2 separate regions of the Homo sapiens genome follow, and region 2 is linked to region 1. The links come from fine-mapping of genetic effects on gene expression. A gene starts in region 1. The other region holds a variant in brackets. All regions are shown on one strand. Distances are from middle to middle.

What was found. PIP is the estimated chance that this variant, and not a neighbour inherited with it, causes the effect. A credible set is the group of variants that fine-mapping cannot tell apart.
Region 2: its variant is the best candidate, but not a certain one, in a credible set for the expression of CD28 in blood mononuclear cells (TOPMed, PIP 0.76).

What each region holds. Positions count from the first base shown.
Region 1 is chr2:203,703,493-203,708,805 of GRCh38, forward strand. CD28 (CD28 molecule) reads left to right here and starts at 3,147. Exons shown (of 4, transcript NM_006139.4): 1 at 3,147-3,256. The coding sequence starts at 3,205. RefSeq lists an enhancer at 3,027-3,176.
Region 2 is chr2:203,730,123-203,735,435 of GRCh38, forward strand. CD28 (CD28 molecule) reads left to right here. Exons shown (of 4, transcript NM_006139.4): 4 at 4,662-5,313. The coding sequence ends at 4,790. Among named protein-coding and RNA genes, the nearest start is that of CD28, 26 kb to the left of the region's middle. The variant A/G (reference allele first, on the strand shown) is at 1,884.

The DNA of each region.
Region 1 (5,313 bases):
TTGCTTTGACTATTCAGCTCTTTTTGGATTCCACACGATTTTTAGGATTGCTTTTTCAAATTCTGTGAAAAATGACATTCTTTTGTTCTGACAATTCTTAACCCCACTTCAGACCAGTTTTCTCATCTGTAAAATGGAGATAATAATAATCTTCCTCACAGGTTGTGTATTAAATGAGATCTGGAATGTAAAGTTCTTAGTATGGAAATGCTATTATTTTTACTGAAAATGTTGTAGGGTCTCAGTATCCTGTGTATTGCCGGATTTAAGGTCCTTATTTTATTTCTGTCATTTCTACCTCTTGGTATATGTGAATGCTATTGGATTTCAAAAGCAAATGTGAAAGGATTCTAATGAAATGGTTTGCTTCTTTAGTGTCATACATGTTAAAACATAGGAAGGCAAATGTCAAAGTTTGTGTTTCTTTTTATTCTATGGAAAGAAAATTAAATATGGCTCATCAAATAATAAGGCCAATAATATTTAATTATTGTTTTGTGAATTCGTATAAATGAGCTGACCTCTCTGGGCTGCAGCTTCCTTCTCTGCAAGATAAGGGAATTAGGCCAGATGAGTGAACTGTTTCTTTTTCAGCTAAGTTTGACCCGATTACTACTATTTACATAGTATTAACTAGATGCTATGTAGTCATCTTTAATATGCTTGAAGACAGTTATTAACTCACTCCTTAGCCTTTTGTTGTTGATCATGGAAAACTACTGGGTATCTTTGTTTCTTCTGTGTATATTCTCAGTATGTATAATGAGTCTCAGAGCCTCTTGTTTTAAGATCTGGGTAGGCTGGTGGCTCTAGAATATGGATGACCTTTTAGGAAAGGTCACCTTGCCATCTGTAAATTTTCCCCCAGATAGACTTCAGGCCCTGGGGAAGGCATGGGTTCCCCTAACTGGATAGAGGATCAGAGCCAGGAAGACTGTGTCAAATTCTAGAAGTGAATCTTCTCCAGGACTCAGGGCATAGCTTTGTCACTTACCTATAGTTCAGAAGTGTGAGTGAATCATTTCCAAGGACAAATTTCTCCAAAGGACCAAAAGATGTGTTAGTAAGAGGGGTTCACAAAGACTGTGTTTGTGGGAAAATTGAAGTGTGAACAAAGAAGGTCTACCAGGACAGGAAATACTTTTGATCTGTCATTTATCAGATCAGGAGGGAGGGACATGAAGCCTGCCTCCTCTTACAGCTAGGTCATCAAAGAGTTTGACTGTAGCATTTTAAAATAGCGAAGAAAAAAAGGTAACAACACTAGGGGTTTGTTAAACAATTTATGATATAATTAGAGAATGGAATATTATGCATCAATTACAAATAATGTTTATAAAGATACTTAAATGACATGGGAAAATGTTCAAGATATAACAAATAATAGTACATATCTGATGAAAACTATAAGTAAAACATGATATTAAACATGTAAAAATCTTAACAGACCAACAGGTGGAAGGCAGTGGACCAGAATATTAGCAGTGTTTATATTAGGGTGGTAAGAATGTGGATGAATCTTGTTTTAATGCTTATAATTTTTCTAAACATTCTCAATGAAATATGCCTTACTTTTATAGTCAGAATAAAAAGCAATACAAGTTATCTTTTAAAACAACCCACATACACAAAACCCCCAACTAGAGTAATTGCACAAAGCTTAGATTATCAAAAAGAAGAAAAAAATTACTGGAAAAGTTTTGAAGAAGTCATTGAGTACAAGATACTGACGTAGGTGCCGGAAGAAGAGAGCAGTTGGCCGTGCTGGTGGAATAACCCTCTCTGCAAAGGGCCTGGGAGTTGAAGAAGGGTGCAGTCGGGTGGTGGTTATGAATCTCAGAAATCCTGCCACGGAGCCTCCTTTTGTGCCCTATTACTTAACCTTGAGGGACATAGAGAGCATGAGACACCAAGGGGCTTTTGGTTGCCTTACTGTCCCACTAAGAACATAGAATGTTGTTTTGACTTTCCCTTTGCTTAGGGAACCTCCCCCAGATACTCAGCTGGCTGGCTGCTTGCACGTAGAATGGGTTTTGCAAAGTTCCTAGAAGTGAGTTGGAGGAGGCTTGACATAAATCAAGCACTGTGTGCTAAATGCTCCAGAGGGCTACCTTATGTCCTACACAAATGTTACATTTCTAATATTTGTAACTCCTTTAAACGTTTATGCAGATGTTTCCCAATTCCTCAGTAGAATTCTTACCATTATCTTTTTGACACAACCTGTCCCCATCCTATGAAAATCTCTCCTCTGCTAGAGACTTTATTCTTTCTTTCTCTCTCTCCCCCTTCCTTCCTTCCCTCCCTCCCTCTTTCTTTCTTTCCATCTTTCTTTCTTTCTTTCTTTCTTTCTTTCTTTCTTTCTTTCTTTCTTTCTTTCTTTCTCTTTCTTTCTTTCTTTTCTTTCTTTCTTTCTTTCTCTTTCTCTCTCTTTCTTTCTTCCTTTCTTTTTTCTCTCTCCCCTTCCTTCCTTCTTTCCTTCTTTTCTTTTCTTTTCTTTTCTTTTCTTTCTCTCTTTCTTTCTGTCTTTCTTTTCTCATTCTGTTGCCCTGGCTGGAGTGCAGTGGCATGATCTCGGCTCATAGCAGCCTCCACCTCCTGGGTTCAAGCGATTCTCCTGCCTTAGCCTCCCTAGTAGCTGGGATTACAGGTACCCACCATGATGCCTGGCTAATTTTTTGTATTTTCAATGGAGACGGGGTTTCACCATGTTGGCCAGGCTCGTCTTGACCTCCTGGCCTCAAATGATCCACCCACTTTGGCCTCCCAAATTGCTGGCATTACAGGCGTGAGCCACTGCACCCGGCCTGTTCCTTCTTAAGAACACTTTGTCTCCCCTTTAATCTCTGCTGGATTTCAAGCACCCCTTTTACACAACTCTTGATATCCATCAATAAAGAATAATTCCCATAAGCCCATCATGTAGTGACCGACTATTTTTCAGTGACAAAAAAAAAGTCTTTAAAAATAGAAGTAAAAGTCTAAAGTCATCAAAACAACGTTATATCCTGTGTGAAATGCTGCAGTCAGGATGCCTTGTGGTTTGAGTGCCTTGATCATGTGCCCTAAGGGGATGGTGGCGGTGGTGGTGGCCGTGGATGACGGAGACTCTCAGGCCTTGGCAGGTGCGTCTTTCAGTTCCCCTCACACTTCGGGTTCCTCGGGGAGGAGGGGCTGGAACCCTAGCCCATCGTCAGGACAAAGATGCTCAGGCTGCTCTTGGCTCTCAACTTATTCCCTTCAATTCAAGTAACAGGTAAACAATGTTAATGTCTTTCTTTCTGTAAATATTTTTTGAGGTCTTCCAATTGGCTTAGTTTATTTTAAATTTCTAACAATGTGTGAAATTTGAACATTTGAAGTGTAGTTTTGCTGTAATAGGGCAATGTGTTATTTTGAAAATCATTGATTCTCAGACTACAATATAGTATCTTAACAAAAGTCCCTTGGAAATAAATTTTCTAAGCTATTAGTTTCTCTAGCTATTAGTTGATAGTGTCCCAAGAATTTATTATTATTATTATTATTTTAAATTGAGATGGGGTTTCACTATGTTGCCCAGGCTGGTCTCAAACTTCTGAGCTCAAGCAATCCACCTGCCTCTGCCTCCCAAAGTGCTAGGGTTACAGGCATGAGCTACCATGCCCGGCCAATAATTTTTAATTTATGTATCGTTTCTTTCTTTCTTTCTTTTTTTTTTTAATTTAAGAAAGCTGCTGTAAGTAGATTGGCTCTGGAAGCTCTGAATTTAGGTTGCCTATGTTCCTAACACAGGTCCAATTCTCACTAGGTAAGCTTAGGCTTAGCTATTATTTAAACTCTCCAAACCTCAGTTTCCTTAACTGTAAAGTGGGAATAATAATAAACCTCACCTCAAGGTCATTGTGAGGTAAAATGAAATAATCCATGCGAAGGGCTTAGCTCAGTCAGGCTTCAAGATAAATGTGAACTGTAATTACTCTATCTACCTGAATTGAATGAGTTCCAACATGAATTCTGGAGTCACCACAGAAGCTGCTACAACACCAATATTAATAAATTAGTTTTCTTTTACAATCGGCCAAAATGTATTTTCTTAGATTAAAATTCTTTAAGTTCCCAATGACGATGATGAGGAGGATAATACATCTAGCACTTTGAGCAGCACACAGTTCTCGTAACTAGAAGGTAGGTATTACAGTTAACTTCATTTCAGATGAAGAGACTGAGGGGTAGGCACATTAAGGGATTTGCCCAAGGATGTACAGGTGGCAGCTATAGGAGGCAGGGTCTGAACCACCTTAGTCTGACTCCAGTGCCGGTGTTGTTGATTATTATGCTATTCCATCTAACATGGTGTGATTTGTAATTTCATGGACTCAGGTAAATCCAGGGTTAAATTAACTTCGGAAAATCACAAGCACAATTCCTAACAGAAAGAATTTGTTACTTGGGTGGGCTGGAGTAAGATGCTCATTCAACGTGTTCTCAGAGTTAGAAAAAGGCCCCCGCTTGGTTCAAAAACTGGACTGATAGGGGTCAACAGTCATGCTTAAATAAGGACAGTTATTTTTCCCTGAAAGATACATTGAAAAGCCAGTATCCTCAATTTTCTTTCTTATTTTGGCAGTACAGAGACTGCATTATTTGTTGTTATTCTTAAACATTAAGTGTACATAGCCCAAAGAGTATAATTTCCCAATCTGCAGAGGTACAGTAGTTGCATATATACCCGTTTATTTTATGGTCTGACGTACCAGTGAGCACAAATTGTGTATATTTATAAAACGTGTTGATATAATGAAAGACATGAGTTGGCAATGAGATCTGGTACCAAGCGTTTACAGCTACCAAATATATTCTACAAGAATCTTTAACATTTATTTTAAAAAGGTCAAACCTTATTTTTAAGAGATCTCTCAAACTTAAAGAATATTTAAAATTACTTAATTTGTTAGACAGTCAAGGGAAGCCTACCCTGACTGAAAACTATTTAAAATTGGTAATTGTACACTAAATACTTTTCTGATGTGCTTTGTGGACACCTATCTGTCATCAACTTATTCACTCTCTTTTGAAGAGTTTTTGGTAAGACTCAAAACTTTGTATGTTTTCTTTAGAACATTTATTAAAAGGGGACTAGCTAGATAAGTGGTTGGAGAGTTCACACACATAGGGCCTTTGTTTTCTACTTTGACATATATTTACTTTTCAAATGCCAATTCACTTTTCTAGTAACTTTTAGCATTTGATACTGAGTGGCTATCTAATGAAGAAGGAAAGAGATGGGAGTGAAGGGGACACTTTTACAGTCTTTTCCAGTAAGAAAACTTA
Region 2 (5,313 bases), 27 kb after region 1:
GCAACTTGGGAAGCTAGGCAACTGAAGCCAATGGACAATGTTGGCTTGATCAAAAATCATGAGAAACTTGGCTACTGAAATTGTGTATTCAAACCTAGCAAAGAAACTAGATCTGTTTATCTGAGTCATATTTTTTTTTCTCCTCTGAAGCAGTTGAATTGTGTGAGGCCAAGTATGGTGCTGTCATTATGAAACTATAATGGGAGTTAGAATTTTCTGAGCTCTCACCACTGAATTGAAGTACTAACTTTTGCAAATGTTTACGTAATAAATGTGGTGTATTTTTCTTTACCTTCCTCAACATTGAATTTTTGGCCTGGGTTTGAACACATTTTGATGAACGCACCTACAGTTAAGAACGTACCCCTGAGTGACCCTTGTTCTTACTCAGAAACTTCTTAGGTACATAGTATGGTACAGAATGTATTGACTCCATGTTGTCTTTGAATTTTTTTCTAGAAGTTACATGCATGGATGAGTCATTTCTTCAATGAGAAATGTATTCTCAAACATAAAAGACTATTTCTCTTGATAGTCTCCAAAAGACTATTTCTCTTGATATTCTCCATTTGATATTAAGTACATTTGGTGCTTAATGAATGCTTATTGGATTGATGAATTGATAACCTCCAGAGAGGTCAAATTAAGGATTTAAATGAGTCTGCCTGAAGTATGATACTCATCTTTAAGGCATAATCTGTATATGTACCTAATTCATAGATGGGTCAGTGATTTCTGAAAGCCATATCATATGAAGTCATTCTGTTTACTGTCAGCTTGGTGACTGCGGGTACAGACCTGGATCCACAGCCATGCCTTCCTATTATCCAGTCTTAGATTCTTTTAGACTCTTCTTGGCCTATTGCCAAAGCTTACCTTTCAGTTGTTCCCCACATGCTCCTTGCAGTTCAGAAGACCCTAGGGCTCAGATGGACATTTGTCAGGCTGCCTGTTGCTTACTCTGTACTTGCCGCAGGGTAGGAAACAAAGTGGTTGCTTGTTCCTGGAAATTCTTTATACTAGGTATCATCTTAAGAATTTGCCTGGCTTGCCTTCTGCAAGTTGCCCAACCCTGAAGGTGGGGCTTTGGTATTGTAAAATGTTGCCTGAATTCTGCCTCTGATGTTAGTTGACTACTTTCACCTTTCCAGATCTTGGTATCTTCATCCAACTTACCTTCTAACTTTGATCCTCTGGTGTTTGCTGATAATTTTCGAGTTTTTAGAATTCTTAGTTCTTGTTTCTTCTTAATCTCTGGCCATTGGCTTTTATGCCTACCATATGGCTTTTCAATCCTCTTATTGGGAATCTCAACTTTCTAACTTAAAGGCCAGGTGCAGTGGCCCTTTGGATACCCCTCCAGGAAAGGCATTCCCCTGTGATATGCTGACCTAGGTCAAAGTAATTTACTAGCTCTGCAGAAAGTAGTTTTGGGAATTACTTTAACCTTCAATGGCCAGAGGACACTGCTCATTATTGAAAACTTATTATAAATATTCATTAGAATGTCAGTTACTATAATGAGACATCAATTTGTTGAGTGACTTGAGTCACCCAAAGGGACAAAAGCAGCTTCTCACTTTCAATGAATTTAAACCGTTCACTTTCAACTCAGACACATCATAGACACACTGGGTTTTTCCTTGGCAGTACTACTAATTCCTAGTGAGATTCATCTTGCTTTGTTTTAAAAAAATTTTATTTTTGTTTTACTTTGTCTTACAGACCCCCTGTGAATTGGGCAGTCCTGTCATTTGTGGCCTCTTGTAGTCAATTCGGTTACCCAATAAAAACTACCACTTATCTGCATCTCAAACCTGGGTCTTTGTACTCTCTTACCAAAAGAGTATAAATACAAGTTTGTCTATATTTCGTAGAATAAC[A/G]TAGTATTTTTACTCTGGGCTCATCTTTTCCTGCTGTTGGTATTTAAGCAACAAGTACCTTGCTGAGTTGGGCATCTAGGCCATTATGGATCCCTGGAGTTTAGCTGTTTCCTGGGTAATTTTCTGAGATCCTATTTTTGGCTGGTCTGCAGCGTGCCTTGATGTAAGTTGCTGTTTTCCGGAACTTCCTGAGGGCCTGATATGCTACTGTAGGCAGTTCTGGGTTGAGTGGGTTTCTAGGCTGAGCGGGTTTCTGGGAGCAGCTGCAGATTCTATCTCAGTTCTTGACCTGATGTTGACATTTGAGTAAATAAAGAGCTCCCTTTGGTCAAGCTGTCACAGGCCAGCACCTGTCACTGTCTTTCAATTCTCCATTCATGCAGCTGTGCTGGTAAAGCTGCCCGTTTTCCTAAAGAAATCTTTTTAAAAAACATTATGTTCCCCACTGCAGATCATAATGTGAGGAATGTAGATAGTGTGTGTACAGGTAGTGTCTGCTTTTTATAATAATCCAGTAGATTCTTGAAGACCACGTACTTAAGTAGATTACCTTGCATATGCCCTGTGTATTGCTGCTGTTCCCAGGAAACAAGTGGGTAAGGCTGGCATGGGGAGAAGGGCAAAGGAGGAATGGTCCAGAAATTACATATCATTAGCTGACATTCACTGTTGAAGGGGTGGAGATGACACAGACACATAGGGTAGGTACTTCCTGCACACATATGCACACATACTCAATGCACATGGGTGCTGTAGGTTCTGCGTGGTGTTTGTTCCCAGCCATGCATCTGTCATTTTCATCCCACTGCTGTGTTTAGAGTTAGGGTGATAATAAGTAAGTCTGCCATCTGACAATCACTTGAGGATAAGCATGGGAGCTGACTGCAACAGACCTTTCATTATTTTATGTGCAATGTAAAGAACCTGAGAATCAAGACACCTTTATTGCTGTGGCCTCTCTACCAGCTATGATTTGGTTTGGGTGTCCGGAGGCAGAGGCTGACACTTGGAGGTTTGGCAAAGGGAGTCCTCAGGGTTGGAGTAAGTACTAAAAATGCTTCCCAGGTTATCAGCTGTTTTCTACACTCATCTGGGGACAGACATTTCCTCGGCCTCACCCCTGCCCTGCTGTGATCTTGTGCTCAAGACAGCTCTAGTCTTTCATTTACAGAAAGGATGTAGAACCAAAACAATTCTTCATTGCATTGTAGGATGTTTAGCAGCATCTCTGACCTCTACCCAGTAGATGCCAGTAGCATCCCTCCCCGTTGTGATGATCCAAAATGTTTTTAGACTTCACTAAATGTCTCCTGGGACAGGGATTAAGGGAGCTTGAGGTGTCAAGGATGAGGTTAGGAGGTCTGTCTTGGGCAGCTGTATATATGGTAGTGTCATTCACTCAGATGAGAAACACTGGTAAAAAAAAAACAGCATTTGGGGGAAATCTTGAGTTTTATTTTAGACATGTTGAGTTTAGAGTGGCTTTGAGGTTTAGTCCAGAGATATAAATTTGGGTGAGTAGGTGGTAATTGAAGCTGTGAATGTGGATAAGATTGCCTAGGGAAAGAGGATAGAGAAGAAGGCCTAGGACCAAGCAGTGAGAAATTCTAACGGCTGGTTAGAGAAGGATGAGCTTGCAAAGGAGGCAGGGAAGGAGTGACAAGACAGGTAGGATAAAAACTGGGATGTCATAGATGGCAAAGAGAAATAGTATCACAAAAAGAAGAGAGTTATCAATAGTATAGAATACTGCTGAGAGTTGAAGAAGATGAGGACTTAAAACATGTTAGCTGTGTTTAGTAACATGGAAGTCAGCGTTTTTCAAACCTTTCTTTAGCACTTACTCATGCCCCTTTGACAAGGAAGGTGTGAAGTGCTCAGGCAGGAGTGTATGGAAACAAAACCAGGGCTGAAATCATTCACTTATTTATTCATTCAGGTATCATGTCATTCATGTACAGCATTATCTACTTAGGTATCAGCCTGTGTGCCAGGAACTAGGCACTTTTTTCATAATAGAGAATTCTGAATCCAGAAATCTGATGGCTTTCTGTTTTTAGATGTTTTCTGGGTCATTTGTTAAGAAATGTAGAATTTTACTATCACATTGATTCAGAAATGATGTTCCTAACCCTTAGTCAAAAATTTTGCTAAGATTCATGGTGGGTGAAACTATTGCCCTTACTTCCCTCACTTCTGGTGGAAATTCATCCTGATGGAGCCAAGCCTATGAAAGAGAGATGAGTGTAGAAATACATACCCATAAAGACATAGGAATGTACTAGTTGTCTAGAACTGTAAATTGCCATTAGTTTGGACTCCACCTTTACAAATTTGTGATTATTACAGACTCTGGAGGAGTTGAAAGTCCTCTTCGGTTAATTATGGAAAAACAGCTTGTTAAGCAAATGCTAATGTAAGAAGATCACAATGTGGGTAGGCTTAACCTAGTCAAAGGAGGAAGGGCCTTCAAGTGTATTTACATATCAACAGTGGATATGTTAATTAGTGTGCATTTTTAATTCAGGTCAGATGACAGCATTGAGAGTAACAGGGATGCATTTCTCTAAAATACTTTCTTTGAGATTTTTCAAGTTCAATGTGAAGAGTCAGTAGTTGGGTGTGATTAGTCATTACCCAAGTCCAAGGTGCTCAAAAAAGGTTAGTGTTTTAGTGTCTCTGTCATTTGACAGTTAATATTATGAATAGTTGTGCCCACAGTCTTAGAACTCCTTCCATGACATTGTCCCTCCATACTGACACTTCTCTTTCCTGCAGGTGAGGAGTAAGAGGAGCAGGCTCCTGCACAGTGACTACATGAACATGACTCCCCGCCGCCCCGGGCCCACCCGCAAGCATTACCAGCCCTATGCCCCACCACGCGACTTCGCAGCCTATCGCTCCTGACACGGACGCCTATCCAGAAGCCAGCCGGCTGGCAGCCCCCATCTGCTCAATATCACTGCTCTGGATAGGAAATGACCGCCATCTCCAGCCGGCCACCTCAGGCCCCTGTTGGGCCACCAATGCCAATTTTTCTCGAGTGACTAGACCAAATATCAAGATCATTTTGAGACTCTGAAATGAAGTAAAAGAGATTTCCTGTGACAGGCCAAGTCTTACAGTGCCATGGCCCACATTCCAACTTACCATGTACTTAGTGACTTGACTGAGAAGTTAGGGTAGAAAACAAAAAGGGAGTGGATTCTGGGAGCCTCTTCCCTTTCTCACTCACCTGCACATCTCAGTCAAGCAAAGTGTGGTATCCACAGACATTTTAGTTGCAGAAGAAAGGCTAGGAAATCATTCCTTTTGGTTAAATGGGTGTTTAATCTTTTGGTTAGTGGGTTAAACGGGGTAAGTTAGAGTAGGGGGAGGGATAGGAAGACATATTTAAAAACCATTAAAACACTGTCTCCCACTCATGAAA